Linked DNA regions of Homo sapiens. The protein of the gene in region 1 interacts with the protein of each later gene in a pairwise test. Each region holds a gene or a part of one and is shown on either strand. Other genes may lie near its edges.

The links.
Region 2: the proteins of SPCS2 (region 1) and TEFM interact in a two-hybrid assay, tested with the Homo sapiens proteins (one large-scale study listed by IntAct).

The regions. Positions count from the first base shown.
Region 1 is NC_000011.10:74,976,207-74,979,676, forward strand, and holds the end of SPCS2 (signal peptidase complex subunit 2), read left to right. Parts: intron 1-650; coding exon 651-837; 3' UTR 838-2,827; downstream 2,828-3,470. UniProt on the Homo sapiens protein: Component of the signal peptidase complex (SPC) which catalyzes the cleavage of N-terminal signal sequences from nascent proteins as they are translocated into the lumen of the endoplasmic reticulum.
Region 2 is NC_000017.11:30,900,676-30,903,387, forward strand, and holds part of TEFM (transcription elongation factor, mitochondrial), read right to left. Parts: intron 1-2,712. UniProt on the Homo sapiens protein: Transcription elongation factor which increases mitochondrial RNA polymerase processivity. Regulates transcription of the mitochondrial genome, including genes important for the oxidative phosphorylation machinery.

The DNA.
Region 1 (3,470 bases):
ACAACAATCTTTGCTCAAGAATCTCCTAGACAATCCTGATTCAAGCACCAGAAACAAAGGGAAAAGAAACCTCCCAGTCTAGTGAAGAAAGTAGTACACATCATGTCAACAGATAGGTAATTTTGTTGATACCATAAGAGCCTATTATTAGGCCTGGCATATGACAGGAGGTCAGTATTTGAGTTGAGTATTGATTGATGGTACTGTGGAAGACAGAGGAAACACATCTGACCCAGATTGGTAGGCTTTCCCAGAAAAGTTTATGCCCAAGTATAGTGTTAACAAATAAGAACTTCTCAGGTGAGATAGGGGAGAAGAGTCTGCGAGGAAAACCTGTCTAGCATGGCAAATACGAAGTCCAGAGATGAGAGAAGATGGTCCACGTGGTTTAAAAGTCTACAACAAGGTAAAGGAGGTACACAGTAATTAAAGTAGGAAAGATATGTCAACACCTAAGAATCAGAACTAGTATCTTGAAAAGTTAGGAGCCCTGGGGTTTTGTTTTTGCTTTTGCTTTTAAAGGATGTGTTTGTTCCCTGTATCACCGTGCCCAGCTTACTCCTTTTCTTCGGAAACACTTGGTGCCGTATTGTTACTGGTTGAATCTCTGTGTTTGGTTTTTAATTTGTTATCTTTGCCCCCATGCTTAGGTTTGATGACAAATACACCTTGAAGCTGACCTTCATCAGTGGGAGAACAAAGCAGCAGCGGGAAGCCGAGTTCACAAAGTCCATTGCTAAGTTTTTTGACCACAGTGGGACACTGGTCATGGATGCATATGAGCCTGAAATATCCAGGCTCCATGACAGTCTTGCCATAGAAAGAAAAATAAAGTAGCCAATTCTAAAAGTAGCCCTCTTTCTCCTGGATCTTGCTGAATTAGTGGCTTGGGGGGTGGGGGAGATAAAAAGAACTTAAAATGGGTAAAGTAAGAAATGTTAAAAAGTCCCTGTTTTGTCCTGAAATTTTAGTCTATTCTGGGTAAATAGGATTTTCTGACACAGATATGAGAAGTTGTAGCTCTGATGTCTAGCTGTAGTCTCCTTGATCTGCTGATTGCATTATTTTAATTTGCTTTTCTGGGAAAGCAGTTTTGCTAAAAGCTGTACAGACTTTTTCTTTTGTACCTAGCAGTACTTTATATAGTATAGCTTTGGGCCATGTAGCATTTTAAGACTCAATTTTAAAAAATTATTAATCTGTTGCTGACTCTTAATTCCTATTTCAATATGTGTTTCCTTGAAGAATTCAGGATACAACTTCTTGTGTATGACAGCTTTCCTTCACACACTATTTTTGTGGGTGTGTATATATCTGATTTGGGAAGAATTTAAAAAACACATAGCTTTTTAATTTGTTTGAAACAGACTTTCTGCCTGTTACATTTTTGCTTTTAACCAATTAAAGAAGCCAATGGCATTTTAGTTTTATATTGTGTTTTCCACTAGTATATCCCTGTTGATTTGTTTGTGCCTTTTATTAACTGCCATTTTCTAAAATTTTTTTCAATAAAAGGAAGGAAGATGTGAAAAAAATGGAGTCATAGTTTTGATGGAGAGAACAGAGAAACAAGTGTTAACATCTTTCTACTATAGGTTTTTTTCATTTTTAGGCTATTTTACTTGTCAAAGGCCCCTGAGAACCTGTAGCTAAGGAACTCTTAGCTTTCCAGTGATAATAACAATAATAACAACATTCTGTACTTACTTTGTGCCAGAAATGCTCCAAGTACTTTACATGTGTTAATAATGCTCACAGCAATCCTAAGAGGCAGGTGCTGTTATTATCCCCATTTTACACATGAGGAAACTGAGATACAAAAGTTAAATAATTGTCACACAGCTAGTGATAGAACTGGGATTCAAACCTGGGGAGTCCGGCTTCAGAGTTTGTGGTCCTGCAGAGACAAAACAGCCGCTTTTCCAGTATTTTCCCAGTATGGTCAGAGAAGACCTGGGTGCTTGCCAAGATCCTTTGACCTTTAGGAATATTTCCCTACAGCCTTACAAAACATCAATTTTGGCTGAGCCTAGTACCCAACACTATATTCAGTTTGTAAGAAATTACCATTATCACATTTCCTGTTTGTCTTGGAGAGGTTGTCCTATCTCGCACCACATGGTAGGGAATTGTGAACAACACTGGACAGAAAGTTAAAGCCTTGGATTCTGTACTCTTCATTCCTGTAAACCTTGGGTAAGTTTCGGAATTCTCTGTGAGCTTCTTAAAGTTTTTGAAAGCATGTAACCGGATAAGTGTATTTTTACAATGGAGGAGTTACAGTCATCTTGGTATTTGTGGGAGATTGGTTCCAGGATCCCCAAGCATACCAAAATCCAAGGATGCTCAAGTCCCTTATATAAAATGGTATAGCATTTGCATATAACCTACACACATCCTCCCATATACTTTTAATCACCTCTGGATTACCTATAATACCTAATATAATGTAAATGCTATGTAAATAGTTATACTGCATTGGTTTTTTAATTTATATTTTTTGTTATTTTTTAAAATATATTTTTAATCCATGGTTGGTTAAATCTGTAGATATAGAGGGCCAACTGTACTGTTAGACACAAGGGTCTCGAGGCTTGCAGATAGAGACTGAATAACCCTCTCCATGATGATCCCTTAGAGTTCCCCCACTGTGCCTTTTTCTTTACATGTGCATGCAAACATGTGTCTCCACATACATTTTTTTTAACAAAAATTGAATTATGTTGATATATGTCCTGTAATTTGTGTTTTAAACTTAATATATCTTAGGCATTTTCCCTGTGTGTGTGTATAATGCAGCTATTAAAAATGAGTCTGAGGCCAGGCATGGTGGCTCACGCCTTTAATCCTAGCACTTTGGGAGACCAAGACAGGTAAATCACCTGAGGTCAGGAGTTCGAGACCACCTTGGCCAACATGGTGAAACCACATCTCTACTAAAAATACAAAAAATTGGCTGGGCATGGTGGCAGATGCCTGTAATCCCAGCTACTTGGGAGGCTGAGGCAGGAGAATGGCTTGAACTGGGAGGCGGAGGTTGCAGTGAGCCGAGATCACACCCTGCACTCCAGCCTGGGCAACAAGAGCAAAACTCCGTCTCAAAAAAGAAAAAAAAAAGAGTCTGACATACATATATATAAAAGAAACTGTTCTAAAATACCAGAAGTGCAAAGGCAGGGGACCAATTGCAACAAGTAGCTGGGGTGATAACCCCTATATATATATACACATAGGTCAGTCTCATTTTTAATAGCTACATAATATTCCATAGTATAAGTGATTTTACTTTAATACCCTATTGATGATAATTTTTCCCCAGTTTTTTTCACTATTCCAGGAAGGAGTATGGATTGAGGAGAGGGGAAGAAAATAGGTCCTCAAATGAGAGACAAGAAACCTGGGTTGTTAGCAACTTTTTTCTAATTTGTGACCTTGAATACATCCTATTCCTTTTCTAGGGTGAAGTCTCT
Region 2 (2,712 bases), on another chromosome or scaffold:
ACTACAAGCTCCACCTTCTGGGTTCATGCCATTCTCCTGCCTCAGCCTCCCGACTAGCTGGGACTACAGGCGCCCGCCACCACGCCCGGCTAATTTTTTTATTTTTTTTTTTAGTAGAGATGGGGTTTTACTGTGTTAGCCAGGATAGTCTCGATCTCCTGATCTCATGATCCACCTGCCTTGACCTCCCAAAGAGCTAGGATTACAGGCATGAGCCACCGTGCCTGGCCAGAAGTGTAAATATTTTAGATGCAAACATAATCTACAAATTCAGAATGCCTAACTAGTTTATGTAATATAAACTTATTTATAGTTTATGAACTGAGAATTATTAAAGAAATGCAGGAGTAATTATTATTTTGTTTGAGATGGAGTCTCGTTCTGTCACCCAGGCTAGAGTGCAGTGGCGCAATCAGCTCACTGCAACATCCACCTCCCAGATTCAAGCAATCCTTCTGCCTCAGCTTCCTGAGTAGCTGGGATTACAGGTACCTGCCACCACACCCAGCTAATTTTTGTATGTTTAGTAGAGACAGGGTTTCACCATGTTGGCCAGGCTGGTCTTGAGCTCCTGACCTCAAGTGATCCACCTGCCTCTGCCTCCCAAAGTGCTGGGATTACAGGTGTGAGCCACCAAGGAGTAATTATTATTAAAAGGTAACCAGCAGCAGTCAGTTTATAGATAAAGGACCTATACTCATTCTCAGCACCTTGCCCAAAGTAGGCATTCAAACTCAAGTGTAGCCAAGGTCTGCACTAGATACTAGGAAACAACAAACGTAACTGTACATTATAAGAAATGCCACCATAAAACTATTGTAGAGAGAAGTGGTCAGGGAAGGTTTACTGGAGGACTAGGAGAATGAGACAGTAAATGGGAAGTTATTTCACCCAGATGTCTGGAAAGATAGGCTGTTTGACATCTCACACTCTGGCAGTAGAATAAAGACTGAATAGGAAAAGGGCAGAGGACAAGGCAGATGTCTATAAAGGTAAGTAACTTGCTTTATCCTGAGTGCTACAGGGGCCACTAAAAAAACAGAATTTTAAGGAATAACATAAGATTTACATTTCAGAAAAATCACTGATGGTGTAAAAGATGGGCTGGAGGGAACTAAAGGTAGGGATCTGTGTTAGGTACCTGTTACAACATGAGAAAGTGTTAAGAATTGAAGACAATGACAGAAGGAAAAGAAACAGATAGTGGGAGCAGAATTAATACATAGGTTTAACGAGGAGTCTAGAATAATTCCAGTTTTATATCAGTGACTGAATGGCATCATTAATGATGACGAAGATAGGAGTCACATGACCTAGGGAAGGTGGGAAGAAATTTTTTTGTTTTGTTTTGGTTTGTTTTTAATGCATTAAGTTTGGGTTGCCTATAGGGCTTCTAAGAGGAGATATATAATAAGTAATTGAATATTTAGATTTTGCTTCCTATCAAGTCTGGGCTGACGATGAAGTACAATGCTATCACCTTTCCCCAACATGGCTCACTTAGTTATATTAACAAACTAATATGTTCTATAGATACAGAGGCAAATAAACAGGAACAATTAGTTGTATACCCATCTCCCTTTCATTGCTAAGGACTGGATAAATATCTTAAAGACAAAATAGTATAGATGCCCAAAATACAGACTTCCTTTTGGTTTTCTTTAGCTAAGTGACTCTCAAGCTTTACTGTGCACAAGCATTACTGAACCAGACTACACACAATACTTCGTCGGCAATCGATTTTTTCTTAAAGGATTTTACTGCATGACTTATATCTCCATAAAAACTGACTTAAAATCCAGCCCCCTAAATAAGATGCAACTCCACTCTAATCTGGGTATAAATAGTTTTGGCCATGAATCTGGATGAGAATCCTCCCTGAAGAATTTGGTTAAAATATGTTCCAGATCAATTGCAGCAGTTCTACTTGGAGTCCATGAGTGGACTTAACAGAATCTGCCAGTCCTCTGAAACTGTGTAGTATTCTGTGTATATGTGCTATATCTTTTTCTATGGGAAGAGGGTCCACAGCTTTCATCAGGTTTTCAAAAGTACCCATATTCCTCAAAAAACGGACCCACTGGTCCAGAAAAAAAATGGTGCTTATGATTTTTATGAGATAATGATTATCAAGCAATGTTACACAGGACATGAGTTCCTCTAAAGTTTAATACTTGAGTGCTGTGGCCGGGCGCAGTGTCTCACACCTGTAATCTCAGCACTTCGGGAGCCCGAGGCAGGTGGATCACGAGGTCAACAGATCAAGACCATCCTGGCGCCAACATGGTAAAACCTCATCTCTACTAAAAATACAAAAATTAGCTGGGCGTGGTGGCATGTGCCTGTAGTTTCAGCTACTCAGGAGGCTGAGGCAGGAGAATCGCTTGAACCTGGGAGGTGGAGGTTGTTGTGAGATCATGCCACTGTACTCCAGCCTGGCGACAGCACAAGACTCTGTCTCAAAAAAAAAAAAAAAAAAAAAATTGGCTGTGTCAAATATTTCTAGTATTTATTTTTTTAAGACAATAGAAAAAGAATTGCTTTTAGAATGGTGTTTTTTTTTTTTTTTTGAGACAGAGTCTTGCTCTGTAGCCAGGCTGGAGTGCACTGGCGTGATGTCAGCTCACTGCAACCTCTGCCTCCCAGGTTCAAGAGATTCTCCTGCCTCAGCCTCCCGAGTAGCTGGGACTACAGGCCCACGCCACCATGCCC